Linked DNA regions of Homo sapiens. The protein of the gene in region 5 interacts with the protein of the main gene of each other region in a pairwise test. Each region holds a gene or a part of one and is shown on either strand. Other genes may lie near its edges. The genes, in order: TSPOAP1, ZC3H11A, SLC22A7, DSCAM and RAPGEF4.

Region 1 (6,228 bases), on a different chromosome or scaffold from region 5:
TTGCTATTTCCCTGATAACGCAAATAAGATCAGGGTCCCCTTCTTCCGTCACCCATGGCCTGGCCTCCTGGGTGTTCTGGACAACAGGGCCCAAGCCCACATACCTGCTGGGAGTGTGGTGAACTGCAGGGTGGCAGCCCGCTGCTCCAGCCTCTCCCAGCCTGGTTCCCAGGGCCCTTGGGGTGGGAGCTGAGCCTCCACTTGGGCCTGATAGGGTGTGCCAGGCCGTAAGTGGCAGAAGGTGGCCCAGTAGGTACTGGGGCTGGCAGGTGGGCACTCTTCCCCATTGAGGTAGATGGCATGGGCCAAGTTGCTATTGCCGGGCACCCAGGTGATCTCAGCAGATGTGGCTGTCAACCGATGGACCCGCAGCTGGCTGGGCACCACTCCGGCCCGGGCACCCACCGCCAAGCAACAGCGCAGTGGGTCAGAGCTGCCCCGGCTAGTCAGGGCCTGGACAGAAATGTGAAGGGGCCCGGCCCACAGGTCCAGGTTCTCCAGCACGGCCTTGGGTGGCGCCCCAGGCCCCAGGGCCTGTCGCAGCTCCCCATTCACACAGATATGGAAGCCGTGTAGCTCCACTTGCTCAGGAGGCGGCTCCCAGGCCAGCACCACGCTGTGGGCCAGCTGCTTGAGGACCACCAGACGGCGGGGGTAAGGCACGGCAGGAGGCTCGCCCAGGCCCTCCGGTGATGGGCTCAGACTGAGCTCGTCCCCTGCATCCTCCTCCTCAGGTCTGGGCTGGCTCCTTCCCACACTGCTTTGGCCCCCGCTACTGCTGCCACCCCCACCTACACTCAGGAAACTGAGTTCAGGGCCTGAGCTGTGGGACAAATCGGCCAGCTCTGGAGGGAGGGAGGTCAGGAGGTCATCATCCGACACACGCTCTACAAAATTGGAAGGGACCAGGCCCCTTCGGCCATCCATGAGCTCTCCTGGCAGGAGGAGGACAGGAAGGGGCAGGGCAGGGGAAGACAGAGAGGAGATAAAGAAAAAACGGTATAATAAATGCATTTTAGCAACTGCTAGTGGGTGATCTTCAGCATTTGATTCAAATCAACATTTAACTGTCAATTCTTTTAAAAGACAAGAGCAGTAAAGATCTGGATTAGAGATAGGTCTGATAATAGTATTTTGGTTCTATAGGACAGTGCTTCTTCAATTTTAACTTGCATATGAATCACCTACAGATTTGTTAAAATGCAGATTCTAACTCGGTTGGGTCTGGATGGGGCTGAGATTCTGTGATTCTAATAAGCCACCAGGTGACACTCAAGCTGCAAGGATGGAGGAGAATATCATGTTCTAAGTAAGCATGTTGAGTATTTCAAGGTAAAATATCATAATGCTTTTAAAATCATGTTTAACCTACATATAAAGCAAATATGCCAAAGTTTTAACAATTGTTGAATCTAGGTGCTGGCTATATAAATATTCAAATATATTCTGTACATTTGAAAACTTTTGTGTTAAAAATTGCAATAATAATTTCATAATTTCATATTAAAGTTTTAAAAAATAAGCAGGTCAGGATAAGAAAACTGGCCAGGCATGGTGGCTTATGCCTGTAATCCCAGCACTTCAGGAGGATGAGGCAGGCAGATCGCTTGAGCCCAGGAGTTTGTGACCAATCTGGGCAACATGGCAAAACCCAATCTCTACAAAAAATGCAAAAATTAGCTGGGAGTGGTTGCACGCCTGCAGTTGCAGCTACTCAGGAGCCTGAGGTGGAAGGATTGCTTGAGCCCGGGAGGCAGAAGCTAGAAGTCATAATCGCGCCACTGCACTCCAGCCTGGGCGACAGAGCAAGATGCTGTATCAAAAAAAAAAAAAAAAAAATTCTGCTGGTTGGGTTTTACCTGGGCCTGAGGAATAGGGGCCAGGGTGCCCCTCAACTTCTCTTTGTGAACAGCAGACATCCACAGAGGGAGAGAGAGACAACCAACTCAGCAGGGTAAAGGAGGAATCTTTAGAGACAAATGAAGTAAGTGCTAGTGAAATAGTCACTTGTAAGTTCTAGAAGGATCAGGAGCCCCAGCAGGCCTGTGTCTAGCAGCATGATTGACAGCAGTCAATCCAGGCAACCACCAATGGTTATGTTTTGTTACCTGCATCAGTTCTCCTGAAGACTTGACAAGAGAGTATTTTAAAACATTTGCTGTTGTTTGATTGAGGGATGTCAAGGAAGCTGGGCACCCAGCATGTAATGTCACGGTCAATTTAAAGAAGAAAAAAAGGTCTCAGGAAACAGACAGCTGGTAGCTGGTGTGCTTTATTGAGAGGAAGGGGGAGCACGAGCCAGGGCTTAGGGGAGAGGGGTGAGTGTAGGCAGGTCTGAGCTGCAGGGGGGCCTGGAGTTTCCCCCAACAGTCATCTGTGCCCCTCACCTCCACCCTCTCTCTCTCTGCCTATGCTAGGCAAAAAAAAAGTAAGGAACTTGAAGAAACAAGAGGGACTGTCAATAAATTCACTGATATAATAAGCACTGTAGAGGGTTGAATGGTGGCCGCCCAAAAACATGTCCATGTTCTAATCCCCAGAACTTGTGAACATGACCTTATTTGGAAAAAGCGTCTTTGCAGATGTAATTAAGTTAAGGATCTTGAGATGAGATCATCCTAGATTATCCGGGTGGGTCCTAAATCTAATGACAAGTGTTTTTATAAGAGACATGCAGAGGAGAAACACTAAGAGGAGGAGGCAATGGTGACCACAGATAGAGACTGGAGTGAGGTGGCCATAAGCCAAGGAACAACTGGAGCCACCGTAAGCTAAAAGAGACAAGGAACGGAACCTCCCCTAGAGCCCCCAAGGGGATGCAGTTCTGCCAATACTTTGATTTCAGACTTCTGGCCTCCAGAAGAGGCCAGTGAGAGAATAAATGTCTATTGTTTCAAGCCACTCTATGGTAATTGCTCCTGCAGCCCTAGGAAACGATCATAAGCACCAGCACTGTGGAGTGGGAGACAAAGGCAGGAGTCTTCACACTAAGAGGATCTCCAGCCTGCAGGGCTGAAGCTGGAGCCTGGGCCGGAGTCAGGCACATGCTCCAGAAGCCCATGCAGCTGAGAACAGCCTAGGTGGCCCAGACATAGACGAAGCAGTCCTTTAGCTAAGGTTGGACAGGGAATACGGCATCTTGCCCCCGGTGGCATTTACATCTATCCCAATTTATCCCAGATCGCAGAGTTCAAATTCTAGTCATTTGTGGTTAGTTAATACTTATGCCTTTGCTGCCCCCTCCAAAAATAAAGTGTTTGGGTTTTGGTTTTTGATTTGGGTGGGGTTTTTTTTTCTTCATTTATAAAGTATTATTTTCCTGAAAGCTTTTTAATTCTGATCTTCATAATCTACCCCTGTAGGGAGTTTAACTGTTTAGGCCACAAAGCCAGGTACCATGGGTCTCAGCAGCTCCTCAAGTAACAGGCAGAGGACCCAGGGAAAAGAAACTGAGCAGGCTCCCAAGCTTCCAGGGTTACAGATTCAGAGCTAAGCCTGTTCCTAAATCTCTACACACAGCTGCGGCTCTCGCCCTGCCCTGTCCATGCCCCATCCAATTCTCTACACAGTGCCATCCTCTCTGCTGCTGATGGACTCAGCCTGGTGGTACCCAGGCCAGAGCCACCCTGAGAGAGTCTCCCAAGGCCATGTCTTCCGCAGGCCCATAGTGCCCAGTCTCAATGAGGCATCTGCCTTGAGTTGCCTGATCAGCCCTCTGACTCCCCACAGGAGCTGCAGAACCTCCCTGAAGCAGACACCCTGCCTGGGCCCTGACAGCTGCTAACCGCTTGAGAACACCTTCCCCTGGGATCTTTACCCTGATTCCTCCTTCGCATACCTGACTGGAGTCCAGCATCAAATCTGTGCTGCATACCTGACCTCAGGTGTCACTACTGTGAAACACTGCCACGCCCTGACTATCCACACAAAAATGAATCTAGCCAAAATCTCCTGTGACACTCTCTCCACCATCTGGACTATGCTGTCCTGTCCTGCTTGGAGCCAGACTCCCTTCTTTCTCTTTCCCCAGTGGCTACTAGGTCTCTGTATGCCTTTTAGCTGAGACCAAAAAGTTAAGGTGGGCTGAGCACGCTGGGCAGAGGGGATGGATGGATGGATGGATGGATGGATGGATGGATGGATGAATGGATGGATGGATGGATGGATATCCGTCTTTGGGAACATGGGCTCAAAGGCAGGGGAATGGACAGAATGACCCCCCACTACATTCCTACCTTCAAAAAAGCCATCCTCATCCATGTTGCCATAGATGTAGATGTACTCGCCAGCTGTCAGCGGAAGCTCTGCTTCTGGATTCTCATTGGGACCCTCAAAGGGGTTGTAGCTGTTAGGGGAGGCACAGAGGAGGAGGAGGAGAGTGACCTACACTCCACTTCCATGTCCTGTCTTCTCTCTCCCACTGCACTGAGCCTTTACGGAGACTTGGTTGTGGTTGTCCACCACCAGCAAAGCTGAGCCCTCACTGCACCCACCTTGGCCCAACTAGGTTATTAGAATAGGTCCATTGTGTCCTGTACTGCCCCCACCACTTCCAGAGGTCTCCAGCTCCACCCGGCCCCCTCCTATACCCCAAATGCTGGGGCTGGGCTAGGGGGCAGTGAGGGTGAGGGACCCACCTATAACGTGCTAGGAAGACCTGGATCCTGGCTCCTCCCCGGCTGCCCTCTGGCGCAGCTGGGAGCAGGGAGACACTGTCTGCCTCCAGCTCCTCTACCTCACTGGCTGTGTCCACCTGGGGGCAAACAGAAAGGGCTGGTTTCTCTTCAGGGCCTGGGGCCAAGCGCCAAGCAGGCAGGTTTCCAGGCTGAGCCAGAGGACCTATTGCTTTAAGGAGGGAAAATGAGCACATACATGCTGCACAGGAGCAGTGGCAAGGACCCCCTGATGCTCTCTAAATTAGTGCCTGAGAGAGCAGGTCCTGGCAGAGCCCAGCTGCCCTGGGCAGGGGCAGTGGGGATAACCCAGACCCCTCCCTGAGCCTCTACTGCACCCGCCAGGAAATAAAGCCACTTCCCTCATCTCAGAGGGGCCCAGGCCATGCTGGTGTGGGGAGTGGGTGTCAACAGAAGTTTGGTTTGGTTCCTTAAGGTAAAAACTCAGCAAAGTTGCCAGGTGCAGTGGCTCGCGCCTATAATTCCAGCACTTTGAGAGGCTGAGGAGGGCAGATTGCTTGAGCCAGGAGTTTGAGACCAGCGTGAGAAGCATAACAAAACCCCATCTCTACTAAAAATACAAAAATTAGCTGGGTGTGGTGGTGCATGCCTGTGGTCCCAGCTACTTGGGAGGCGGAGGTAGGAGGATTGCTTGAGCCCAGGAGGCAGAGGTTGCAGTGAGCTGAGATTGCGCCACTGCACTGCAGCCTGGGGGATAGAGCGAGGCCCTGTCTAAAAACAAACAAACAAACAAACAAAAACAAAGAAAAAAGAAACCCCTCAGCAAAGCACCCCAACTGTAAATCGCTGGAAGCAAGGAGGCAGAAAGGAGGCAGAAGGAGCTTGAGGGGTCCCTGCTTCTAGCCGAGTGACAGTGTGTCTGCTGTTCAGCTCTGGAACTCAGAACTTCCCGTCTACTTGCCCGGCCCACAGCCCAGGGCACCGCAACCTCAGGGCACCCCAATTCTCTGACCCTTGTTGAGGTTGCTGGGGTAGCCTGGGGAACAGGCTGTCTTCTCTTCTCTGCCAATGCCTGGGAGAAGGGGACCAAGTGGGCAACCTCTCCACAACCACATCCAAAGCTGGCACCATCCTTCTATCCCACGAGGGGGCAATAGAGGCCCAGGGCTTCGTTCTACCACTTTCTGAATGTTTGGCTCTCAGAGCTGCTTCTGACCTGCCTCCTCCACCTTCTGGGGTTTGTGGGTAGAAAGAAGGATGAGTTGACGACCAGAGCTATGAGTGATGCCCAGGAGCTTAGTAATAATAACAGCTGCCCCGTGTTGAGCACACATCCTGTGTGCCCCACACTGAGACAGGCAGGTTCCGTATTCATTTAACTCTCACAACAACCTTAGAAGGCAGGTTTTATTAGCTCCAAGATTCAGATAAGGAAACAGAAGCCCAGAAAGGCTCAGTGACTTGCCTAAGGCAAAGCTGGGATTTGAATCCTGGAACATGTGCTTTCTCATACAACCACCTGCTTTCACTACAGATGCTCTTAGGAACAGTCTCATTATGCAGATCCTGGTGCCCAAGTGTCTCCTCCATCCAG
Region 2 (6,228 bases), on a different chromosome or scaffold from region 5:
GCAGTGGATTACCTGAGGTTGGGAGTTCGAGACCAGCCCAACCAACATGGAGAAACCCTGTCTTTACCAAAAATACAAAATTACCCAGGCGTGGTGGCGCATGCCTGTAATCCCAGCTACTCAGGAGGCTGAGGCAGCAGAATAGCTTGAACTGGGAGGTGGAGGTTGTGGTGAGCAAAGATTGCGCCATTGCACTCCAGCCTGGCAACAAAAGCAAAACTCTGTCTCAAAAAAAAAAAAAAAAAAAAAAAAAAAAAAAAAAAAAATTGGGGGTTGGAAATACAGAGCAATCAGGCTGACGTAAGCTCCAGAAGAAAATCCTAGCAGCTCTTGAGGAAGAACTCTTCTACTAGAAAATGACGTTTTTCCTTTTTTTTCTTTTTTGAGACAGAGTCTTGATCTGTCGCCAGGCTGGAATACAATGGTGCGATCTCAGCTCACTGCAACCTCTGCCTCCTGGGTTCAAGCAATTCTCATGCCTCAGCCTCCCGAGTAGCTGGGACTACAGGTGCATGCCACCCCGCCTGGCTAATTTTTTGTTTTAGTAGAGACGGGGTTTCACCATGTTGGCCAGGATGGTCTGGATCTCCCAACCTCATGATTCGCCCTCCTCGGCCTCCCAAAGTGCTGGGATTACAGGCGTGAGCCACCACGCCCAGCCTTTCCTCTCTTAATATAATTTCTTTTTAACCACTATAAGAACTTACAGAATTAATATAGTTCTTATATGATGTTCTTCAGAGCTATATTTTTCAAGATATACAAGTTCTTTCAGATTCTTTATTGTACCCAGCTCTGAAAAGTTAGGGACTGAAACACAGCTGCAGTGAATTAAAAGCAACCACAATTTAAATAAGTCTGTGTTTTACTTCAAACAGGCCATGGAAATGAAAATCTATTTGCTCATTTTGGCTGTTGCTTCTAGAAGCGTCCTTAGTATTCTTCCCTAGCAACATACAACTATCCATGCCAAAACGTGATGACTTACCACCTTGCTTCTTAGATTTTTCCTTCATTTTCTTTGACTTAATTTCCTCAAGAGTTTTTATTCCAAAATTCAAACATTCACCTGAAAATTCAAATAGAAATTTTATGAGGAACGGGAGCCTTTTCATCTTTGTATTTTATCTGTACATAGCAGGCATTTATTTTTGAATAAATGATCAACAGAAACTAAGTATAGGTAAGTATGCGTGTAGCATGGGAAAAAGAAGAGGGAGGTCAATGATTGTGAACTAAATTTCAAAGGTAGTTTCAACAGTGCTATAAGAGGCACCAATCTAGCCTCTTCTTACCTTGCTTTATATTGACTGCAGGTTTCCGGACAGAAGTCACTCGTAATCCATTGTGAACTTCAGGAGTTGGTTGCAGGGTAGGTGTTTTGGTTTCATCACCTTCCTCAGAAAACTGATCTATATATCAACATTTAAGGCAAATTCACAATTAAAAATACGCCTATAGCTTTAATCCTGATTCTGCCCAATTCACTATGAGACCCTATTTATTTGCCTTAAAGAAGGAGCCAGACAGAACTTACCATCATCATCTTCATCATCATCTGCAGCATTAATTACAACTGGTGGATGCGTGGGGCTAGGAACATTTTCGGAACTTTCTACTTTCATAACGCTCCGCAGCTGAGGGGAAGGATTGGACTGGACAGACAATTTGTTCTGCTGAACTGAAAGTTGGCTAGCCTTCACTTCCTCTTCTGGTGACTCAGGCACAGTGGGCAACACAGCTAAACGCACAAAATCAGTCATAAATTAAAAACAGAAGATACAACCCCAACTTACCAAAAATTCCTGACCACCTATGAAAACTATAGTGTATTTGTCTTATGAGCATTTATACTAAATTTCCTCATTTAAGTTCTAAAGTCCCAGGGAGGGAAAAGATGTGCTTTTACCTAATTAACTCTCCACTAACTCTCCACTGTACATAAACACAAAGTGGGCACTCAAAACAGAATCAACAGAAGACTAGAAGAAGCATAGTACCTGTTCACAAATTCTAGACCTTTAATTTTAATACTGCAATTCTAGGCTTTTTGCTCAGCAAAGAAGTAGCTTCTAAGACCCAAGCATATGACACTTACTTGAACCAAACCAGAAAGGAATAAGTCTACTTTTTTCCCTTAAATTGAGGTAAAAAGATGTAGCCATCAAATTTTAATCACGTAGCAACTGTGGCTTTTAAATGGCCAATTCCACTTTTAAATTACTTTAAAATGAACTTTGGGAATAACCACTAGCTTTTTAGTTTTATTTTAGATTATAGTCTAGAGTAGGGTTGGCAAATATTTTCTGTAAAGAGCCAGTTAATAATTTAGGCTTTGTGGGCCATATGGTTTCTGTCTCAACTACTCAATTCTATAGCACTAGCACAAAACTGATAATAGAAAATATGTAAATGAATGGGCAAGGCTATATTCCAATAAAACTTATTTTACAAAACAGGCAGAGGACCAGTTTTGCCAACCTTTGACCTAGAAAATCAAATTTATTTTGAAAACGTTTATGGGTCTGATAAGAATATGAGAAATGAAGTAAGTATAATAACTTAAATGGCATGCCAAGATATATAATGGTTCTAAGGCCAAGGATAAATCATTTAACCTTAATAAGATTCAGTTCACTTATCTGTAAAGTGGAAATAATTCTGCTGTTTCACAAGACTGAAAGGAGTCAATGTCTGAAAAGTACTGTTGTACAGTGTGCATAATAGGTGTTCATTTGATATTCTTTTAAAATTAAAAACTGATCTCACTTTTGCTCGGAGGTAGGAAAAGGCCATCAACATATCGTCCTCTATTGTGATGGAAAGCGCAGTTTAATTTTTGACATCCTGTTGGCTGATTTTCCCAATAACAAGGAATTTCACTGCGTTTTTTCTGTAAGAGGGAAAAACACATTGCTTTCAAATAAAACAGTGATACGTATATTCATGTGGCAGTTTGTTTTCTAGACAAAGTTCATACAGGGTTCAAAAATCCGAGGCATGTGAGATGAGATGATTTTTAGAAGGAAGAGAGATTGCTGAAAATAACATAACTTAGGCATGATGGAGAGCTGAATGGAGCAGGAGAGTAGTTTATGTTATTCTTTCCCTTTTTACCCTCATCCTGGAACCCCTAAAATGTCTACACTTAATTTAGAGAAGCAGGATGATACAGTAGTTTAAGTTTATGAAATCAAAGATAACGGTCTGAATCTCTATTATGTTACTTATTGGCCAGGTGGCCTTGGATAATTCATGCCTCTAAGCCTCACTTTCCTTAGCTATAAAACGGGAATAAATGGTTTCTTATGAAGAGTACATAAAATAATGTATATAAAGCACTAAGCACATAGGTCAAACTCAATAAACTGCAGTTATTACTTGAAGCTGAGAGTTCAAGGGTTTGAGAAAATTCTTCCCATTCATGAATTCTCAAAGTAAGGCACCTATAACAACACACTAAGGATGTTAGGTATCCTTCCCAAGTCACCTTACTTTTTTTTTTTTTTTGAGACAGAGTCTTGCTCTGTCACCCAGGCTGGAGTGCAGTGGCGCGATCTCCGCTCACTGCAAGCTCCGCCTCCCGGGTTCACGCCATTCTCCTGCCTCAGCCTCCAGAGTAGCTGGGACTACAGGTGCCTGCCACCACACTCGGCTAATTTTTTTTGTATTTTTAGTAGATAAGAGGTTTTACCATGTTAGCCAGGATGGTCTTGATCTCCTGACCTCGTGATCCGCCCGCCTCAGCCTCCCAAAGTGCTGGGATTACAGGTGTGAGCCACCGCACCCGGCCAGTCACCTTACTTTTATAAAGGAAAATTGGGAGAAAAAAAAAAAAAAAGAATACCTGTGCATCTAGAATAGAATAAACTGCTGAATCATAGGATGTATGTCCTAGAAAAATATATACATTAGTTCTCCAACAGCTGTGTATAAGCAATGTTCACAGCAATATTATTTTCAATAGCTCTATAATTTTGCAAACCCATGTGTACATCAATACTAGAATGGATAAAGAAACTGTAAAGTATTCGTACAACAGAATATCATCTAGTAATGAGAAGGAATAAACCATTGCTATACTCAATGCCACAGATGTGAAATGAAAGAAGCCAGACACAAGAGTGCATACTATACCATTCCATTTATGAAAAGATGAAAACAGTCAAAACTTCTCCATGGTAGAGTAGTTGGGATGCTGATCAGCTTTGGGGATGTGGTTAGTAACAAGGGGATGAAGGGGAAGATAGATTACTGCTAATACTCTATTTCTTGAACTAGGTGCTGATCAAGTAAGTATAATCACTCTATGAAAATTCTTCAAGTTGTAAGATTACGATTTTGCACTTTTCTAGATACATTTTAATAGTTCAAAAAAGGGGGAAAAAAGATATGAGAAGTACTCCCAAAAACTAACTAACCTCCGATGAACTGCATTATGTCGAATCTCTAATCATCATAAACAGCCTATGGTTTAAAATTCCAGGAAAAAACACCAGCATTGAAATTTAAGAATATGGAGAAGAGAGACAGAGAAACAATAACCATTACAAAAAGATGCTTAAATGTATCAAAAAGGGCAAAGGTCAAAATCTACTATATTGAGAGAGTGATAAAATTCAATTATACACTGTTTTCAGGGACGTGGAAGAATCAGGCAGTCTCAAACACATAATGGAAATGTAAATTTGCTCCACATCTCTGAAAGGTGATTTGGCAAAATCAGTTTTTTAAAACTATGTTCTAAGTTTATGTCATATGCATAATTACCTATTAATATTTTTAAAGTATAATTTTTAAAAAGAATTAATTATTATTAATCAATATTTATTTATTAATTTTAATATTATTGATATTTTCTAAAAGTATAATATTTTTTAAAAGTATAGGCTACTGTGGGCACACTACCTATAGAGTGGCCCTGCTCCACAAGGAGCAGTAAAAATAAAGTAAAAATAAAAGTACAGCAAATACCGTTACTTTCAAAGAACTAGGAAGAATTTATTAGTCCTCTGTCACACCCGAAAGGTAGATGTAATAGCTACCACTGTTTTTTAGACAGGAATAACAATTATTCAATTCTTCCTTTCTCAAGGCAGAACCTAATGCCAATCTTCCTTGTTCCTAAGCCTACCTTTGCTTAAATTTTACATCTTTCCTGGAAGCAATTTTCAAATTACTGAATGACTTCTGTAACAGTATCTTCTATACACAGAAGTCACATGACATTTATTTGATCTGTTTAATACATTTGCTAGATTTTGTTTCTAATTGAAAAGTAATATATGTGCAACGAAGACAACTTGGAAAATGGAAATAAATGCCAATTATGCTATTACCCAGAGAATCACTTATTTTGGTATGAGTTTTTACTTGTAAAAAAAAAATCACAAGTGACTATATGCATACTAAAAAGAAAGGTATTCCATGTAATTCTGTACATTTTTCCTTAGTAATATCCTCCACATGCCAGGCGTGGTGGCTCACGCCTGTAATCTCAACACTTTGGGAGGCCAAGGTGGGTTGATCACCTGAGGTCAGGAGCCTGACCAATATGGTGAAACCCCGTCTCTACTAAAAAATACAAAAATTAGCTGGGCATGGTGGAGGGCGCCTGTAGTCCCAGCTATGCGGGAGGCTGAGACAGGAGAATCACTTGAACCCGGGAGGTGGAAGTTTCAGTGAGCCAAGATGGAGCCACTGCACTCCAGCCTGGGTGACAGAGTGAGACTCCACCTCAAAAAAAAAAAAAAAAAAAAAAAATCCTCCACAGTAATATTTCTCCTACATAATTATGTCTTCACATTTTTAACAGTAATACAGCACATGATCCAAAGATAAAACAGTTGATTCTCATTATTTGCAGTAGTTATGTTCTATAAAGTCACTTGGAACACTGAATTAGTAAATACTAAACCATTATTCCTAAGGGAAATAGAGTTGGGTTCCTGTGGGCCTCTGGTCACATTTTCATCAACTAATCAATACATAACTTTGTTTTGGGTGCATTTAATATTGTTCATTCATTAATATGAAACGCAAGACAAATAGCACTGTAACTCACACTTGAACAAAGCTTATCTAACATCTATTTTCTTTTTTTTTTTTTTTTTTTGAGACGGAGTCTCGCTCTGTTGCCCAGGTTGGAGTGCAGTGGCACAATCTTGTCTCACTGAAACCTCCACCTCCAGGGTTCAAGCAATTCTCCTGCCTCAGCCTCCCGAGTAG
Region 3 (5,118 bases), on a different chromosome or scaffold from region 5:
GCTGGCCTTGAGTAACCCACTTCCCTCTGCTTGTGCCCAGCACAATGGGAGGCCATACTGCCACAAGCCATGCTATGGGGCTCTCTTTGGACCCAGGGGTAAGTACCAGCCTTAAGGGGCCATGGGTCAGCAGAACCCTCCTTGTGGCTGGGAGCTGGGGGCTCAAGCCTGACCTCCCCTATTCTCTCTTCAGGGGTGAACATTGGTGGTGTAGGCTCCTACTTGTACAATCCCCCCACTCCCAGCCCTGGCTGCACCACTCCTCTCAGCCCCAGCAGCTTCAGCCCTCCCAGGCCAAGGACTGGCCTCCCCCAAGGCAAGAAAAGTAAGGCTGGGCTCAGCTCCTCCCAGTCCTCCTCCCGACCCTTCCCCAAGCTGGAGCGGAGGTTGGGCCAGGTGGCAGTCTCCTATCCAGCCCTCTGCTTCACATTCTCACAACTTCATTCTTGGCAAAGTCTTCTCTATCTACTCCCCGCTTTTTTTTTCTTTCTTTCTTTCTATTCCCTCATGTGAGCTGCTGAGTTAAGAGGTAAATTGTTGGGAGGCCGAGGCAGGTGGATCATGAGGTCAGGAGTTCGAGACCAGCCTGGCCAGCATGGTGAAATCCCATCTCTACTAAAAATACAAAAATTAGCCAGGTGTGGTGGCTCATGCCTGTAATCCCAGCTACTTGGGAGGCTGAGGCAGGAGAATCATTTGAACCCAGGAGGCGGAGGTTGCAGTGAGTCAAGGTCATGCCATTGCACTCCAGCCTGGGCAACAGAGCGAGACTCCATCTCAAAAAAAAAAAAAAAAAAAAAAAAAGAGGTTAATTGGGCAGATGGCATTATCCCCTCTCCTCGTGTGTTACAGGTGAGGAAAGTGAGATCCAGACAGGGCAAATGACTGTCCATCCACAAAGCTAGTCAGAGGCAAAGCTGGCCAGGAACTTAGGTCTGTCCCAGGCCAGGGCCATGGAAGGAATGATCTAAAGGAGAGGAGTCATTGGGATAAGGCCAGCCTCTCATATTCTTCAACTTTTCTCCTCTGGTCCCTGTTCTTTCCCTCCATTCCCTGAAGTAGGCAATGACACTGTGCTCCCCAACACCTGACACCCGTGCTGTGGCCAGCTCCTATATCAGCTCAAGTTTCCTGAGGATTGAGTTGCTAACAGGGTTGGGATGGTGGGTACGTGAGCCCCTGGGAGGATGAAAAGGAAGCAGGAGAAGGAAGCAGATAGTCCCTAATACACATAGGGATGGGGCAGGAGGTGGAGTCAGAGGGGGCTCAGCTCTGGGCCTGTAGAAGGCAGACTCTTGGGCGCCTGGGTGGGGCACTCTGGAATGAGCATGGCTTTTGAAAGAGGACAGCACCATATGCAGGCAGGTGCTGGTGGGCATCTCCACCTCAGACATAGCCAGGGCCTCTTCCCCTTTAAAGGCCCTCCCCATATGAAGACATTCACTGGGGAGACCTCGCTGTGCCCTGGCTGTGGGGAGCCCGTCTATTTTGGTAAGTAACAGTGGAAAACTTGGGGAGGGGGATACAGGGTGGGCAGCAAGGGGGAGGGAGGTGATCCAAGGCAGGTAGGTCTCCCTACTCTACCCCTAGAATGGAAGCATTACCACTTCTTTCCACCACCAGCTGAGAAGGTGATGTCATTAGGCAGAAATTGGCACCGACCGTGTCTGAGGTGCCAGCGTTGCCACAAGACCCTGACTGCTGGGAGTCATGCTGAGGTGAGCAGGGCAGGAATGAGTGGTTATGTTGGGAGGAGGCTGGAGATGGGAAGAGAACCAGGCTGAGACAGCTCTCTTTCTCTCTGTGTCTCAGCATGATGGAGTCCCCTACTGCCACGTCCCCTGCTACGGCTACCTGTTTGGCCCCAAAGGTGGGCAGCCCCATCCCAGACACTGGGATGGCATGTACATGCCTGAAGTATGGCATGTACATGGTCTGTGGGTATGTGTGGACAACTTCCCCTGTGGTTAAGCATACCCTGGCCCCCCCACCAAGTTCCCTCTAGGCCTGAACCCTGCACCACAGACCCAGGGCCTTTGGTGATAGGGCTCTCTCTCTCAGGTGTGAACATTGGCGATGTGGGCTGCTACATCTATGACCCAGTGAAGATAAAATTCAAATGAGACGCTCACAAAAAAGGTCACCCTAACTCAGGCCTCCCATCATGCCCCTCATGGTCCAATGGAAGCTACAAAAATCTCCAGTCCCATGGGGGTTGGGGAAGGTGGGATCTTGGGGGCCTGGGCCTAGGCTCCATGGTAGGCCAGAGAGTCTAGACTTTCTCTGCCAATTTTTTCCCTTTCCCATTTCTATCTGGTTAGGGAACAGCCCGTTTTGAAGGGTATCCTCCTCCTGGCCATCACAACCCCTTTCCCCAGCACATTCTGGAGCTTCAAGGTACTCATAAAACTTGTGTTTATTGAATTTCAGCCTCTGTGGCTTCTTCAATAAAATGTTGGCTCCCATGCCTTCAACTCTTCTTTGGGCATGAGACCAGTGGGTTGGAGGATGGGGAGTGTGGGGGTTGGGATGACATGCATTGCCCTGCAGGGTGCCTCGGAGGTAGCAGGGCCAGCCATGAGAACAAAAAGCTCTGTTCTTTTTGTCCCTTGGGCCTGGCATTGGCAGTCCTAGCACCACACAGTGGACAGCATGCCCACCAGCCCCATTGGTACCAGAAGTCTCATATGCTAGTCCTTTCTTTAGCACCATCTCTAGAAGAAGCAGAAGCACCTTATTCAGTAACTCATTTGAGCATGGCAACAGATCCTATGGTAGGGCCTCCCAAGAGGCTTCATTATCCATTTGGGAGATGAACAGACTGAGGCCCAGAGAGGGAAAGCCACATGCCCAAGGTCACACAGCAAGTTAATGGTGAAGGTTTTATCAGAGCCCAGGGCAGACTCAGTGGCTTCCTATCCAGGGCTCTTCCCACAGCTCGTCACCACTGCCCCAACCCAAGGGGCACCTTTATTTACAGAATCCTCCCCAACCGTGAGAGGGGTGCCCAGCAGCCCACTGCATTCTGGGAAGTCAACTGTTCCTAGAAGCCAAATAATCAAGGATGGATGAGCAGAGGGAGCGGGTACTGGCAGCAACTCCGGCCCTAGGCAGAGGGTTCGATACTCCCAGCCTGAGTTGCAGGGCCTGCCCTTCTGCTCTCCCAGCCCCTGCTGCAGAGCTTCTGTGGAGGGCCTGCCTCCACTCCCACTTAGTTCTGGACCTGCTTCATGGGCATCTCTTCCTCCTGAAGACTGGTTGGGGCACTAGGGAGGAAGGAGTTGTGAGCAATGGTGGGGTTTAATCCCCGAGCCTACCACCCCAGCCTGCCCCATCAGGGCTGTCCCAGGGCTCACCCCAGTTCCTGGTATACAAACGCCTGTACAAGTGACTCACACACATGCTTGTACACACCCCTGATGTGTAGGCATACTTGAGTGTGCACACATACACATCTTCCTGAACAACCTTATGTATTTGTGTTCATACACTCATGTACACATTTATGCTTGCAGTTTACATGCCCCCAATCATGCACCCTGAAACACTCACCTGTGCACGCACACATACATGCACCAAGTACACATGTGCAGATATAGTTTCCTGTCTGAATCCTAAGGTGTCAGGTATCTGAGCACCTGCATCCATATGCATGTTATCACACGTACACAGACACAGTCCTGTGCACACACCTCTTTCTCTCCACGTCCTGGATGGTCTCTGGCAGCTGTGCCTGCCTCGTCTCTGGCAGCAGGAGGGCGGTGCCGGCAGCCAGCAGGGCGATCCCCCCATAAGTAAGCTTGGGCAGTGACAGCCACACTCCATCCAGCAAGGCCGCCAGTGGGGCCAAAGAGCCCCCCAGCCGGCCCACCAGTGCAGTCAGCCCCATCCCTGTCTGTCTGTTCAGAGAAAGAGGATGAGGGAGGCAGATGGTGTTCACACCTACCTGGAGTCATGCCCCACAGGGCTTCCCTCCAGGGCTGGCAGGCCCTGATACTCCCTTCTCCCCATATAGCTAAGAAAACTAGGACTTCTTTCAGTTGGTCTTCCCACCCACCTTCAGGCCAGGAGACCTCAAGCCAGCACCCACCAGAGGACAGGGCCCCCATTCTGACAGAGTACCAATTAGGTATCACTAAAGGAGAAGACAAGTCACCAGACTGGGAGATAAGGAAAGGGTGATGTGGAAGGAAGAAGGTCAGTAGTTTGTACAGGCCCTGCCATGTTGTTCGAGGAGGCAAACCTCTTTCTAAACATGACCAGATGCCTAGAATTTTCCTCTTCCCACCTCTCAGTAGCTAGCTGAAAGACCCCCCCAACCCCGGGCCTTTCAAGGGGTTGCTCTTGGGACAGTCCTCAAGGGCATCTCTGCCTTCCAGGGGTGAATGGGATGGGGGTGGGCAGGATGGGGCTTCTTGGGGCTGTTTTCTTCTTCTTATTATTATTATTATTTAATTTTTTTCTTTTATTTATGTATTTATTTGAGACAGAGTTTCTCGCCCAGGCTGGAGTGCAATGGCATGATCTCAGCTCACTGCAACCTCCATCTCCCAGGTTCGAGCGATTCTCCTGCCTCAGCCTCCCAAATAGCTAGGATTACAGGCATTCGCCACCACACCCAGCTAATTTTGTATGTTTAGCAGAGACAGGGTTTCACCATGTTGGTCAGGCTGGTCTCGAATTCCTGACCTTCAGTGATCCGCCCGCCTTGGCCTTCCAAAATGCTGGGATTACAGGCGTGAGCCACAGTGCCCGGCCTTGGGGTTGTTTTCTTAAGGAGGCCCAGAGAGGATGTCTGACGTGGCTCAGGGTCACATAGTACAGAAGATAAGATGCTCTGCCTTCTCCAAGACTAGGGCAAACACAGAGGGCCCTGATTAGCTCTGTATTCTGGGTGTAGTGTGGAGAACGAGTGAGAGGCTGGGTGCGGTGGCTCATGCCTGTAATAGTGCCTGTAATACGAGCACTTTTGGAGGCTGAGGCGGGAGGATCGCTTGAGACCAGGAGTTTGAGACCAGTCTGGGTAATATAGCAAGACCCCGTCTCTACCAAAAATTAAAATTAAAAAAAAAATGAGTGAGAGACCAGGTTGTGGTGCGTGTATGTAGAAGTGTTGGT
Region 4 (6,228 bases), on a different chromosome or scaffold from region 5:
AAGGATTGTTTCCTTTCAAATGGCCCCGGGAGTCGAGCAGTGATTCTTGGGAGCTGCTCATTTTAGCTGCCTGTCCCAGCTCTGCTCCCTCCCGCTGAGGTAATGTGGCCACGGCCCCCGGCTGCCACGACTGTCCTTCTCTCGTGGAGGAGGCGGAGGAGGCGGCTTCCATCGGGATGGGCTCCAGGACCGTGGGGCGCTTCAGGGTCCGGCTTTTCTGAGGTTCCAAGCATGCTTGTCCTAAGCTCAGGTCCCTGCTGGTGCCTGGACCACCTCGGTTTAACAAAAAGTCCATTCTAAGGTATGGAGGCAAATGTATGAGGTCACCTAGAAGGAAAGACAGGGTAGTTAGTTGGTGTCTTCATTTGGTAAACATGGGCAGAATGTCCTGTGTGCACACGGGAAGCCATGCGGGCTTTAGAGATGAGAATGCCGCTGCACACAGGTGCCTTTCTCAAGATCCTCCTTCAGCGCTCACCACAAAGACAGGTGGAATCGTCCTCCTACCTCCTCCCTGGGCGCGGGAGGAGCTCATTTTCCTACAGTACTTACTTACTTGTATTAACTTACTTGTACAGAAATGGAGGAATGGAGGTAACAGAATCCTTCAACACACCATCGTTGAAAGAAAAACATACATCAAAGGCATCAGTGTCCACTGGGTACGAACGGTGATAGACCAAACCCCGCATGTGATTGGAAGTACAGGGAGAGCACAGGGTTTGAGGAGAGAGCCAGGGACGCCAAGCGAAGATGGACAGCTGGCTCTCGTCCTGGCAATTCTATGAAACCTTGTGACCTTGGCCAGCCACTTAGTTATGGGTCTTCATGATGGCTTTGGGTGAAAGCGCCACAGCTTATGGCCTTCTTACCAGGCCCTGCCTACCTGCTAACTTCTGCGTGGCTCTTCTGTTTCAGCCATGCTGTGTATAGAGATGACAGCAGCTTAGACCAGAATTCTAGTGTTTCTACTTCCTGCTTATGGTCACTCTGGCTTCTGTGGTGCCACGCAAACATAACCTCAGGTCTCCTTCAAGAGCATCTGCTGGCTGGGCACGGTGTGCCTCATGCCTGTAATCCTAGAACTTCGGGAGGCCGAGGCGGAAGGATCACCTGAGGTCAGGAGTTCAAGACCAGCCAGGCCAACATGGCAAAACCCCCTCTCTACTAAAAATACAAAAACTAGCCAAGCATGATGGTGGGCGCCTGTAGTCCCAGTACTGGGGACACTGAGGCAGGAGAATCGCTTGAACCCGGGAGGAGGAGGTTGCAGTGAGCTGAGATTATGCCACTGCACTCCAGCCTGGGTGACAGAGCAAGACTCAAACAAAACAAAACAAAACAAAACAAAACAAACAAAAAACCCAAACCAAAACAAAAAAACCAAGAGCATCTGCTGCAGGAAGGGAGGCATGTGTTCTCTGGGATGCTGCAAGCCAATGACAAGCGTGACAGGGCTTTTCTCATGGCCGTCCCCGCCCGATGCAGGATCTCCCTAACAGGCATCCTTTGCTCAGGGATACCCCATCAGCCTCACTGCAGCCTTCTCAGAAGTGCACCGCAGCCTGACGTGCCTCCAACCAATCCCTCCTTCGCCTTCTCCTCTCACAGGTGTCGGACCTCTGTTATGGTCTCCAGACTCTCCTTGCCACCTCCTGCTTCCTTTTGCTTCCTTCTTCACAAGAATTTCCCCAATAAATTCCTTGTGTGTCTAATCTGTCTTGCTAGGCGCTTCTCAAAAACCTGAACTGACACAGCTTCTTTCACCATCAGCTACTGAAAGGTCACCCTGACCTCTCATTGCCAAATTCTCTGGTTTCCTCTTCGTCCTCTTCCTACCTGCATTACTATAGCATTTGATGCCGTTGATATTTTTGTTGTTGGCCCTTTCAGCTGCCAGGGCACTGTGGTCTTCCAGATCTCTGCCTACATTTCTGGCCACCCTTTCTCACTTTCCTTGACTGGATCCTTTTCTCTGTCTTTCCTCTAAATACGGAGTGTTCAGTGGCCTGCTCTCAGGCCTCTCTCGGAAGGCTTGGCTGCTTTCCTCATTGCTTTATAAATAACATTCCCATCTATCTTTTCCATTTTGCTCTTTCTCCTGAGCCCTAGATGTGAATTTTAGGTGCTTTGCTAGGCATTTCCACACGAGTGTCCATCTGGAATTCTGAAGGCCACAGTCTACCAATTCAGTTAATGAAGGCCAACCCCATCCCCTCCCAATCCCAAATACTGCTTCTCTCCTGTGTGCTCCATCTTGTGTAACATTATCACCATCCTTCCATCCTTGAAACCTCAGAGGTTTCACTGACACCTTTCTCTCCAGGTTAATTCTACCGGCAAAATATCTCTTGACTCTTTTTTTTTTTTTTCTTTTTTAAACAAGAAGAGATAGAGTCTTGCTCTGTTGCCCAGGCTAGAGTGCAATGGTGCATTCATGGCTCACTGTAGCCTCAAACTCCTGGGCTCAAGCAAACCTTCCACCTCAGCCTCCAGAGTAGCTAGGGCTACAGTTACATACCACCATGCCTGGCTAATTATTATTCTTAAAATATTCTGGAGACACAGGGTCTTGCTTGGTTTCCCAGGCTGGTCTCAAACTCTTGAACTCAAGTGATGCTCCTGCCTCAGCTTCTCAAAGCACTGGGATTACAGACATGAGCCACCTGGCCTTGACTCCTTCTCATTCCCATCTTCAGGGCCCTGTTTCAAGGCTTTAATATATCCCATCACCTCCTTGCAAAGCATGAGCACAATTAGGGCCCAGCCACCAGGTCCACTTTGCAACCAACACTGCCTGACTTGAGCTGGACTGACGCTGGGTCTGAGTTTCTGCTGTTTTGGTACAGACAGTGTGCCTTATCCAGCCCAGTGCTTCCCACTTTTTGAGGAACAGGCAGACAAGGGGTATTTGTGCAGTACACTGGGATGAACCCAGGGAGCTGTTTCTGGCCACCTTGAGGTCTGAAGGACTCACCATCTTGGCACACCTGTAACTCGTGACATACCAGGTGCAAAACTCTGTCTAGAGAATGGGCTGGTGGTGTGTGGTCCTGGAGCGAGGGCCCAGGGTAAAGGATGTGCAGGGAGAGAGATATGATGATGGTCTGAGCTCAGGAGCAGCTGTGGGATGTGAGAGAGGGAATTAAATTGTGAGATATGAAGGGGGTCCAAGGAAGGTGGCTTCAGAGTCAATGACAAGTGGGAGTGGTGACAGAGGAGAAGGGGTTAGGGGTGACTCCTTCCCAGGCTCTAAGCTCAGGAAACTGTGTGGACAGTGAAATCACTAACTGTGAAAGGGTGTATAGGGGAAAGATCGTACTTTGATGACAAAAGATGAAGGGTTTAGTTTCAGACCTGCTGAGTTTGATGCAGCTGGGGACATTCAAGACAAGATATCTAGTAGGTATTTTTATCATAGAAACGTAGCTCTAGGATGACTCACTGCTCGTTTTCTGAGTCTAAAGTAACTGAACATTCTTGTTTCTTTTGCTTCAAAATATCCCCTGCTTTCCTTATGTTACTGTATGCTAACAATAATTAATTGAGCCTTCCTCATCCAGCCCCTTTGGACCCATAGGCCCCGAAGGTGCAGGCTGAGGGGATCTGAGACCACCTGAGCCAAGTGAGGGCTGCCATTAGCCAGCTGCTCTGCTAGCGGGGCAATGAAAGTGATATGTGTTTAGACAGTGTTTAAAGCCTGAACCTTAGGAAACACCTTCAAGTTTACCCACAGAAAAAGAACAACCAGCATAACAGAAGGAAAGGACTATTCAAGAGTATAAGAGAACTGGCCTGTAATCCCCGCCCACTTTGGGAGGCCTAGGCAATGGATCACCTGAGGTCAGGTGTTCGAGACCAGCCAGGCCAAAATGGGGAAACCCCGTCTCTACTGAAAATAGAAAAATCAGCTGGACGTGGTGGTACACGCCTGTAATCCCAGCTACTCAGGAGGCTGAGGCAGGAGAATCTTTTGAACCTGCGCATTGGAGGTTGCTGCACGATTGCACTCTATCCTGGGCAACAAGGATGAAACTCCATCTCAAAAAAAAAAAAAAAAAGTATAAGAGAACTAAAAATAAATATGGCCAAATCAAGCCCTAAAAATGCATTTTATACAATTTAAATGAGCATACAAATTTTCAAAATGTTATTACCCGTCTTGAAAATTTTTTTCCGCGAACAACAGGAGCAATGACCTTATTTTTGGGAAATGCAGCAAATGATTTCTTTGTCATTGTGTTATTACATTGTTGCACCACTTGGGATTTATGATTCAAAACTCCATTTAGCTTTTTCAGGATATCTTTATTCTACTAAGTGATGATGAGTAGTTATATGATTTCACTGGGAATGGCAGCATGTAATTCACTAAATGACCCCAGCGACACTGGACTGGGCTCACTGAAATTAAAGGCATTCTAATTCAACGTTGGCTTCCTACTGTCAACTGGATCCAAGGGAAGCTCAGTAATAAATACCTAGACAATAAATGGGCCATAACATTTTTTTTTTTTTTGAGATGGAGTTTTGCTCTTGTCGCCCAGGCTGGAGTGCAACTCGGTTCGCCACAACCTCCACCTCCCGGTTCAAGCGATTCTCCCCCCTCAGCCTCCTGAGTAGCTGGGATTACAGGCATGCACCACCACGCCTGGCTAATTTTTGTATTTTTAGTAGAGACAGGGTTTCTCCATGTTGGTCAGGCTGGTCTCATATTCCTGACCTCGGGTGATCCACCCGCCTCAGCCTCCCAAAGTGTTGGGATTACAGGCGTGAGCCACCGCACCTGGCCCATAACATTCTTATAGGAAGGAATTACATAATTTGGCATTCTTGTAAAAAGGGTTTTGGTAACTTGATGCATCTGAACTTTGGCTTAGAAAAATATAATGGCATGAGGCCTACCCATTATAGACACTAATGTGGAGGGTTCAGGAATCTCTTGCCATATAGAATAGCTTTGTTCCTGAAAGAATTTGAGTTTTTAAAACTTTATGAAACTTGATGGCATTGAAAATTACTAATGTTCGTTTATGGTAGTTATTCTTCAGTCTTCTCTAACCAGGGATTATTTGCAAAAAAAGTGATGAAAGCATTAACAGAGCTGTCATTAAGAAAAAATTGAATAATTCTTTTGTAATGTGAACATCCTTTTGTATGTGAATCAATACACCTTAATTGACCAGTCTTGCGATTTGTAGTTTTATACATTCAATCTCCTGAAAGTGATTATGTCTTTATTCCTAAGAATCTGATAAACAAATTGTTAATTTTATTATTTATTTATTTTAAATTTTAAATTATTTTTATTCAATATTATTTTTATCATGTTGTTTGTATATTTGAGGAAATGGGACAGACATTTACCTCCAGGGTTCTTTAAATATATAGGTCAAGAATGCCTCATGCTCTTTCTGAGACCCGACTCAATCACGAACGCTTGACATATTTGTAATGTGTTGCAACAGATTTGGGGATAAATCTCTATTTTAGTGACTCCCCATTGAATGCACAGGGCTTATTAAACCTCCACAAAGTAATAGCATTGTGGTCCCGGCTGGACTGCAGAATGCGCAGGTCTTAGATTGGAAGGAAGAAACGTGTTTGAAATCAAAAGATAGGACTCATAATATCTGCATCCTGCCTGCAGGGGCTCCCACTTCAGATGTAGTTATCAAGAGGGCTCCAGTCACTGAAATGGACAGATGAGAAATAAAAATCCTTCCTAATGGAAACAGCTCAGTGTTACATCTTTACATGCAATGCCTACATGTATTTGTTTATTGCAGGTCTGACAAGTATCTCTGAATATCCAATATCTCTGATTGATCCAGTTTTTCAGGCAAAGCTCTACAAAGTTGTGTGATTCTCTAATTAGCTCCCTTCAACAATGTGTATTTTCTGATTAGCGTCCAAAGTAGCCCTTTCAACTGTGTGCGTGCTGCAAATGAGTTCTCTCAATAATTAATGCACTTACAGAGAAGAGAGCACCAGAGTAGTCAGCGGTAAGCTCTGTTATTACAGGCACTTATGTTCTTTAAAACCCCAGCCCATGTGCTCATCAACAAAGCCTCTGAGGACCTGGATTCTCTAATTGTCCTCCTATATGCTTAAGATGCCTACACATAGCAAGACAACTCATGCAGTTATTGATCCAGAAAGAGACACATGATGTGTGAGACTGTGGTGACCATGGGGACATTGGCACAGCATTCCCCAGTGCCCTGC
Region 5 (6,228 bases):
GTGAGAAAAGGGAGAAAGCCTTTCCCAGTCCCTCCGGATTTGGTCAATTCTATCTCCCTAGAGGCTGTGGGGTTCTTCATCAAAGACAAGGGGTGCTCAGCCCTGGTGACTAAACATGCTGAATCAGCTGCGGGAACCTTGGAACTTCAGCGCGCGCGCGCACACACACACACACACACACACACACACACACACACACGGAATCTCTTTCCCATTAGGCTTTTTGCTTTCCAGATGCATTTATTCTTAATAATTTCATGAACCCAAGCACTAAGGTCTAGTTGCTATAGCTGCTGGTTAGGATAGTGGGGGTGGGAATAGTGGAAAGAGCCCTGTCTGAATTTGCAAGCCCTGCCATTTATTCACTCAACAACCTTGGCCAGATCTCTTCTCTCTGAATCTCCTTTTCCCCACCGGTAAATATTTCCTCCTCAGGTTTGTAGAAAGCATCATTTGATAGCATAAGAATATTGACTTATTTTATGAATTGTAAAGCTCTATACACATGTTATCATAACAAGTAGGAAAGAATCTTTCCTCTCTCTCTCTCTCCCCCCACTCCTCCTTTCTCTCTTACACATGTGAATACCTCCTTTCCAACATGTTGTCCAATGTAATATTTCAGATGAATAGGACTGTGCCCATTGTATCACCAGAACCTAGCATGGTGCTTTACTCAAAGTAGTCGGTTAATTAATAATTAGTGAATCAATTGGATCAATTTGAATAGTTTCTTTGCCTAAGTACTTGTAAAGCATTTTGATGTATTTTCTCTGAAAAGCATATTAATTCATTTGAAAATATATTTATTTCTTAAAAACCACATTAGCAGACTCCGTCTCAAAAAAAAAAAAACCACATTAGCACCTTAATTGTCCTATCTTGGGGTTATTTTTCTAAATTGAGGCTAAGTGTTCACCACTCTATTACTACCAGCTCAGTAAAAGCTTCCCTTTCCTCTCTATGCTGTTTCCATCTTTGAGTGATTCAAAATATGCTCATGTTGCATGTGTAGTGAAATATTTTTAAGATTGTAGTTTATAGAGTAACTTAGGGCACAGTGTGACATTCTTTTAAATTGGCATGATCTGAGAGAGAATTAAATTTGCTCATTTTTCACAGTACAAGGCCATCAGAAAGGTTGTCTTTCACAGGCACTATCACTTAGACTTAGAAGAGGGACTAGAGGGAAGAAGCCTAGCCTCAGGTACCCGGTGAGGAACACGCATGGTCCATAGTGGCATCAGGATATTTGGGACAGCAGTCTAGGGAGCGAGCCCAGCCTAATGGGAGCTTTGACACATACCGTACTCAGAATTCAGAATCTCCACTGACTCTTACATTTATAGGGGTTGGCATTCCTCAGCCCACACCCCTACTCCCCACCTTGGCCATTCTTACTTTCTCCATTTGGCTCCTATGCCATGGAAATGAAAAAGATAGCACCTGCCAAAGCCTGATGTCATCCAAGTTTCTGCACAAACACAAGATACCATAAAACTAAACCAAAGAAAGCACAGTGGCAACGTAGCATTGTATTTTCATTATGTTAGTTTGTGGCACCTATCTGATTCTCCTTCGGTTCACCTTGCCTTAGCGTTATTAAATGCGGTAGCTGAAAGAGAATTTGGAAATGATTTCTTCTCACCTCCTCATTTCATGGAGAGTAAATGGAAGTCTACAGTGGCTAAGTGACTTACACAATATCACATAGCTAAATGGTGGCAGCTAGAGGACTTGAACCCAGATCCTCCCACTCTCGGGTGAACCAGTACATATTTTTCAATCAGTCAAGACTTTCCTATTTGGTACCTACCATGCATCTGACTATGCTCCTACGTGCCATTAAAAAATGGTCATAAAATATAATGTCCAGCATTGCAACTCTTTGGAAAGAAAAACTCAGTTATAAATGCATGCAAGCAAGAGACCAAAGAGTTAATCAGAAAAGAAATAATTTTCACATAAAGCGATCTTTCTTCCTTTCTTCATTGTGAGCTGAGAGAGGATTGTAGCAATACAGGTTGAGCAATTTTCTTTTTTATGAATCTCGTGCTCAATTTATGAAAGCCATTTTGCAACCCATTTACATGCAGTAAACCTTTGCCTTAAAGTTCTGTCATTTACCTTGATCATGATTATTTATAGTCCTTTTAGACAAGGCTCTTTACTGGTTTAGCTCTCAAGCACAGCACTGTCACAAGCCAGTTTTCTACGTCTTTCAAGGCAGGGTAGGAAGCTAAGACAGGGCCAGTCTTGTAGCTCGCTGTGAGGAATGGGGGCTTTGGGTAATGGGAAGAACACTAGTTGGCATCAGGAGTCTTGCATTCGCAACCTCTGCACTCTCACTCTGTAATCCTGGCCATTTATGCTTCTTTAGTTTCAGTTTGTTCACTTATAGAAATGGAGCGACACTTTCATCACAAGGCTATAAAGTGGAGTTGAAGTGAAGTACTTTGTGTGCAAGTTATATTGTAAATAGTGAAGAGTAAGTTGTTTTATGAACTAATTATCTATAATATGAACTATAAATCATTGAAAAAGGAATGGTGTGTCTAACCTAAAATATTTCTTGATTACCTGTGATGTTGTGCCTCCTGTAGAGCATACAAGAATGGACCAGGGACCTTTACTCTTGGCACATAGGAGACTCTCAATCAGTACTTGTTGCATTAATGAATAAATACAGTTTCTGGGTGAAAGTCAGTATCCTAGGCGTAGTGTAGAATACAGGACAAATGACCATCATCCCAAGCCTCAAGGTGCTTACAATTAAGATGGTAGCCATAAATGTGCAAAGAGCCAGTAAGGTAAGTCATGGTTCTACACAAGAGAAGAAGATATGGTGTAAAAATGTGTCTGAGGCCCTCACCAGAGAATTGGTACAGCAGGAGCCTTTCCTCTTCCTACCTCTGGGTGAGTTTATCTACCTCCAGCCTCTCTTGCCCACCCATGCACTCTTTGTATCAGCCATGGTCCCAGCAGGACTAGATGCCCTGCTGGGCATTCAGTTTTACTGAAATGCATGTAACAAAGGGGATTACAGAGATTCGGGCAGAATTTTGGAAACCAACAACGGGTGGAAATGCACCCAGAGAGAAGCAATGGCAAGAAACATTACCACCCAGAGTAGCAAAGGGCAAGGCAGATCCTGGCAGAGAATGACAGCTAGAGCTAGACACAAGAATCCTTGTCCACACCAAGTCCAGGAGGAGTCTGTGAAAGTCTAATCCCTTGGGCAACTATCAGGCCAGAGTCAGCAGGAGTAAACAAGGAATTGCATGCATTCGGCACAGACACTTTCTGTGGGGTTTTTCATGAGGGCCTAGGGGAGGAATTCTATCCATCTAAAAGCCTGGCTTTCTGAAGCTGGGATCTGTCACTCTTTACCTTTGAAAGTAGCATGTGAAATGAGTGTGAAATGGCTCAATTTCTTCCTTGACTCCTCGGCACCTACCACGCACAGCCTTCACAAGGTACAGAACAGGAGAAAATGGATTATGCCCTCAACAATAAGAGGCGAGTCATCCGCCTGGTTCTACAGTGGGCTGCCATGTATGGAGACCTCCTGCAAGAGGATGACGTGTCTATGGCCTTCCTGGAGGTAGGCAGGGGTCATCTCTTCCAAGAATATACTGTTGTCCTGCAATACAGGGACCTACTTATAGGCTCAGCAGCTTCCCTGGAGAGACCGTAATTGCAAATGCTAGACTTTGTGAACACATTCATTCATCAGAAAGGAACTACAGAAAAAGTAAGGAAAAAATTTACCCATTATTCTGCCATTCTGACTCCCTAATGGGTAGCATTTTCATGTATTTTCATCTAGTCTCTTTTTCTTTGTATGTTTTATCTTGTAGTCACGTAGCACCCATCATTCTGCAGGCTGCTTTTTCCATTTATTTGATATAAGGATTTTTCTGTCAGTACAGTCCTTATAATAAAAATTTATTTACATCTCCTGAAGTAATCAAAAAAATATCTAATGACCATTGAGTAGCCATGTCACAGATATATTTATGTGTTCCCTTATTGTTGAGTGTTCACATCATTTCCAGTTTTCACCTTCCTAGAATAGTAGTACGGTAAAAAGTCTTGTGCAAGTGATTCTGTCCTTGATTACCTTCCTAGAAATGGGATTACTAGATCAAATGGTAGATATTTTTGAGTGGAGTGGAGCAGATCATTTATTTAGGAATTGCTAGAACTGGAAATGGTAGGCTGTGAAAGTGGTTCATAAACACTGTTGAAAGCTGCACTTCCCCGTTCCTTCCCGTAGCTCTAGCCCCAAATTACAGCACTGATTCTGACATTTAAGCTCAATTAGTCGCTCTCCCCTCCAAAATTTGGATGAAGACCTGACTTCTGTTCAGGCAAAAGGCAATGTTACTTCCGTTTCAAACTTTTTCAGTCTGTGTTCTAAAATTATAAATTATCCAAAAGAAACATACACCGTCTCTCCTTTCTATTCATATCATTTCACAGCCAGAGGTGCGAGGCAGTGAGGAAAGATGGACCGAGAGCATCCCTCCAAGCTGAGGAATGAAGTATTTTGAAAATGCGAGGAATGGCGGTAGCTTGGGGTCATACATTGACTCATGGCCTCTACCCGCTGAGTACAGGACCATTTTGTAGATGAACTAAAGTGGTGGTGTAGCTGGCACTGCCATGGTTCTCACCTTCTGCTGCAGAGCAGGCACACCTACAGCTGCAGGGTCAGGACAGTTCCCAGAAGGGCATCAGAGAGTCCTGAGTTGGTGGCACAAACTCATCATAAATTCGCTACAGTGCTGAAGACCATGCTGCATCTTACCACCAACCATGACCCAGAATGAGTGACACCTAGTCAATAAACAATACATACCAAAATAATGTGAAAACGAACATTAAAATTCCCCTGAGAAAAATGAACTAAAAAAAGCACTCTTTTGTGGACTCCAAAATGACCCATTTCAAAACATTGGCTTTCATATAAATATCATATAAACAGTTCACCTGCAATTTACTTTGAATTGAATTTTTATTGTTGTAAAATAGATATCTAATATAAATTTTCCCATTGTAACCATTTTTAGGTGTATAGTTCAGTGGCATTCATTTCATTTCTGATATCCGTGCAGTCATTGATTGCCACTATTTCCAAAATTTTTTCTCATGGCCAATTTTGAACTTAGACATAGTGTAACATTTTCTTCTTTGTTCTTCCTCCAGTCCATGAAGCCATGGTCTGGAGATGCTGGTGAAGCAGATGACATAGGGACACATCTTTATTGCTCTTGACAGAATCATGTGCCTTTTGCAGTTCTTGTTAAAAGCCTGTGACTTTTGCCAATTACAGGAGTTTTATGTATCTGTATCAGATGATGCCCGGATGATTGCTGCCCTCAAGGAGCAACTGCCAGAGTTGGAGAAGATTGTCAAGCAAATGTAAGGAAGGGCTTGACTGTGGGGGTGTGCTTTCATCAAGTAAATCTCAAAAAGTCCTTTGCCCACAAGAAAGGTTAAAGCTGGTCTTTCCATAGCCATGCCCCGCTTGATTTGATTTAAGCAGACTGGGCTGAGGGCATAGGTGGTGCAGTAAGGCCAGAGGAACAGAAGGACTGAGATTCTGTTCATTCTGTGCTAGAGGGCTGCCAAAAGATAGCCTGGGAAAGAAAAGATCCTCCTGGGTGGAGTCCAACTCAATAAACCTGGGTCCCTTAGGTTCAAGGCAGTGAATCTGGCAATAAAATGGCCAGCGGCATTTAAAGAAAGTTTGAGGGCAACTACTTATATGGAAAATTCACTAACTGCTGCCAAAGCTGTTGGTGGTGAATATTTGTGTCCTCTCAATGAACCAGAAGGTTTTCACATGCTATTACTTGAACTATAGATTAAATGCAGTATCAGAGAGTGAGTGTGCTGCTAGATAGACTTTGAAAGCTAGAAATCCTGGCTTTGAACATCGGTTCTGCCAGGAATCTGCCTGTGACAAGAGCTGATATCTTTGCTGTCTACCCTTCTGCTTTGATCTATTACTATTAAAATGAGGAAGCTCATATTGTCTCCTGAAAGGATTCTGTGATTGTGATTTCATTTTCTAACATAAGATTAGTTATATACAAATAAGGCAATTTAATAGTAGCAATGGTATTAAATAATGTGCTTTCTCTACTTCTCGTAGCTCAGAAGATGCAAAGGCACCACAAAAGAAGGTAGGTGGCATGAACTTGCATTCTCTGTCTGTGT

The links.
Region 1: the proteins of RAPGEF4 (region 5) and TSPOAP1 interact in a two-hybrid assay, tested with the Homo sapiens proteins (one large-scale study listed by BioGRID).
Region 2: the proteins of RAPGEF4 (region 5) and ZC3H11A interact in a two-hybrid assay, tested with the Homo sapiens proteins (one large-scale study listed by BioGRID and IntAct).
Region 3: the proteins of RAPGEF4 (region 5) and SLC22A7 interact in a protein complementation assay, tested with the Homo sapiens proteins (one large-scale study listed by IntAct).
Region 4: the proteins of RAPGEF4 (region 5) and DSCAM interact in a two-hybrid assay, tested with the Homo sapiens proteins (one large-scale study listed by BioGRID and IntAct).

Annotation. Positions count from the first base shown.
Region 1 is NC_000017.11:58,311,788-58,318,015, forward strand, and holds part of TSPOAP1 (peripheral-type benzodiazepine receptor-associated protein 1), read right to left. Parts: intron 4,754-6,228; coding exon 4,638-4,753; intron 4,346-4,637; coding exon 4,236-4,345; intron 936-4,235; coding exon 105-935; intron 1-104. UniProt on the Homo sapiens protein: Required for synaptic transmission regulation. It probably controls the recruitement of voltage-gated calcium channels to the presynaptic membrane, and modulates neurotransmitter release.
Region 2 is NC_000001.11:203,824,964-203,831,191, reverse strand, and holds part of ZC3H11A (zinc finger CCCH domain-containing protein 11A), read right to left. Parts: intron 2,894-6,228; coding exon 2,770-2,893; intron 1,742-2,769; coding exon 1,538-1,741; intron 1,413-1,537; coding exon 1,296-1,412; intron 1,070-1,295; coding exon 989-1,069; intron 1-988. UniProt on the Homo sapiens protein: Through its association with TREX complex components, may participate in the export and post-transcriptional coordination of selected mRNA transcripts, including those required to maintain the metabolic processes in embryonic cells.
Region 3 is NC_000006.12:43,302,819-43,307,936, reverse strand, and holds the end of SLC22A7 (solute carrier family 22 member 7), read right to left. Parts: intron 4,853-5,118; coding exon of another isoform or gene 4,666-4,852; exon of another isoform or gene 3,906-4,665; intron 3,900-3,905; coding exon 3,693-3,899; intron 3,267-3,692; coding exon 3,212-3,266; 3' UTR 2,715-3,211; coding exon of another isoform or gene 2,684-2,714; 3' UTR 2,399-2,683; downstream 1-2,398. Other genes in the region: CRIP3 (cysteine-rich protein 3), read left to right, coding at 41-98, 194-325, 1,420-1,491, 1,624-1,718, 1,813-1,870, 2,062-2,123.
Region 4 is NC_000021.9:40,013,060-40,019,287, forward strand, and holds part of DSCAM (cell adhesion molecule DSCAM isoform CHD2-42 precursor), read right to left. Parts: intron 328-6,228; coding exon 1-327. UniProt on the Homo sapiens protein: Cell adhesion molecule that plays a role in neuronal self-avoidance. Promotes repulsion between specific neuronal processes of either the same cell or the same subtype of cells.
Region 5 is NC_000002.12:173,011,011-173,017,238, forward strand, and holds part of RAPGEF4 (rap guanine nucleotide exchange factor 4), read left to right. Parts: intron 1-3,453; coding exon 3,454-3,604; intron 3,605-5,338; coding exon 5,339-5,427; intron 5,428-6,163; coding exon 6,164-6,194; intron 6,195-6,228.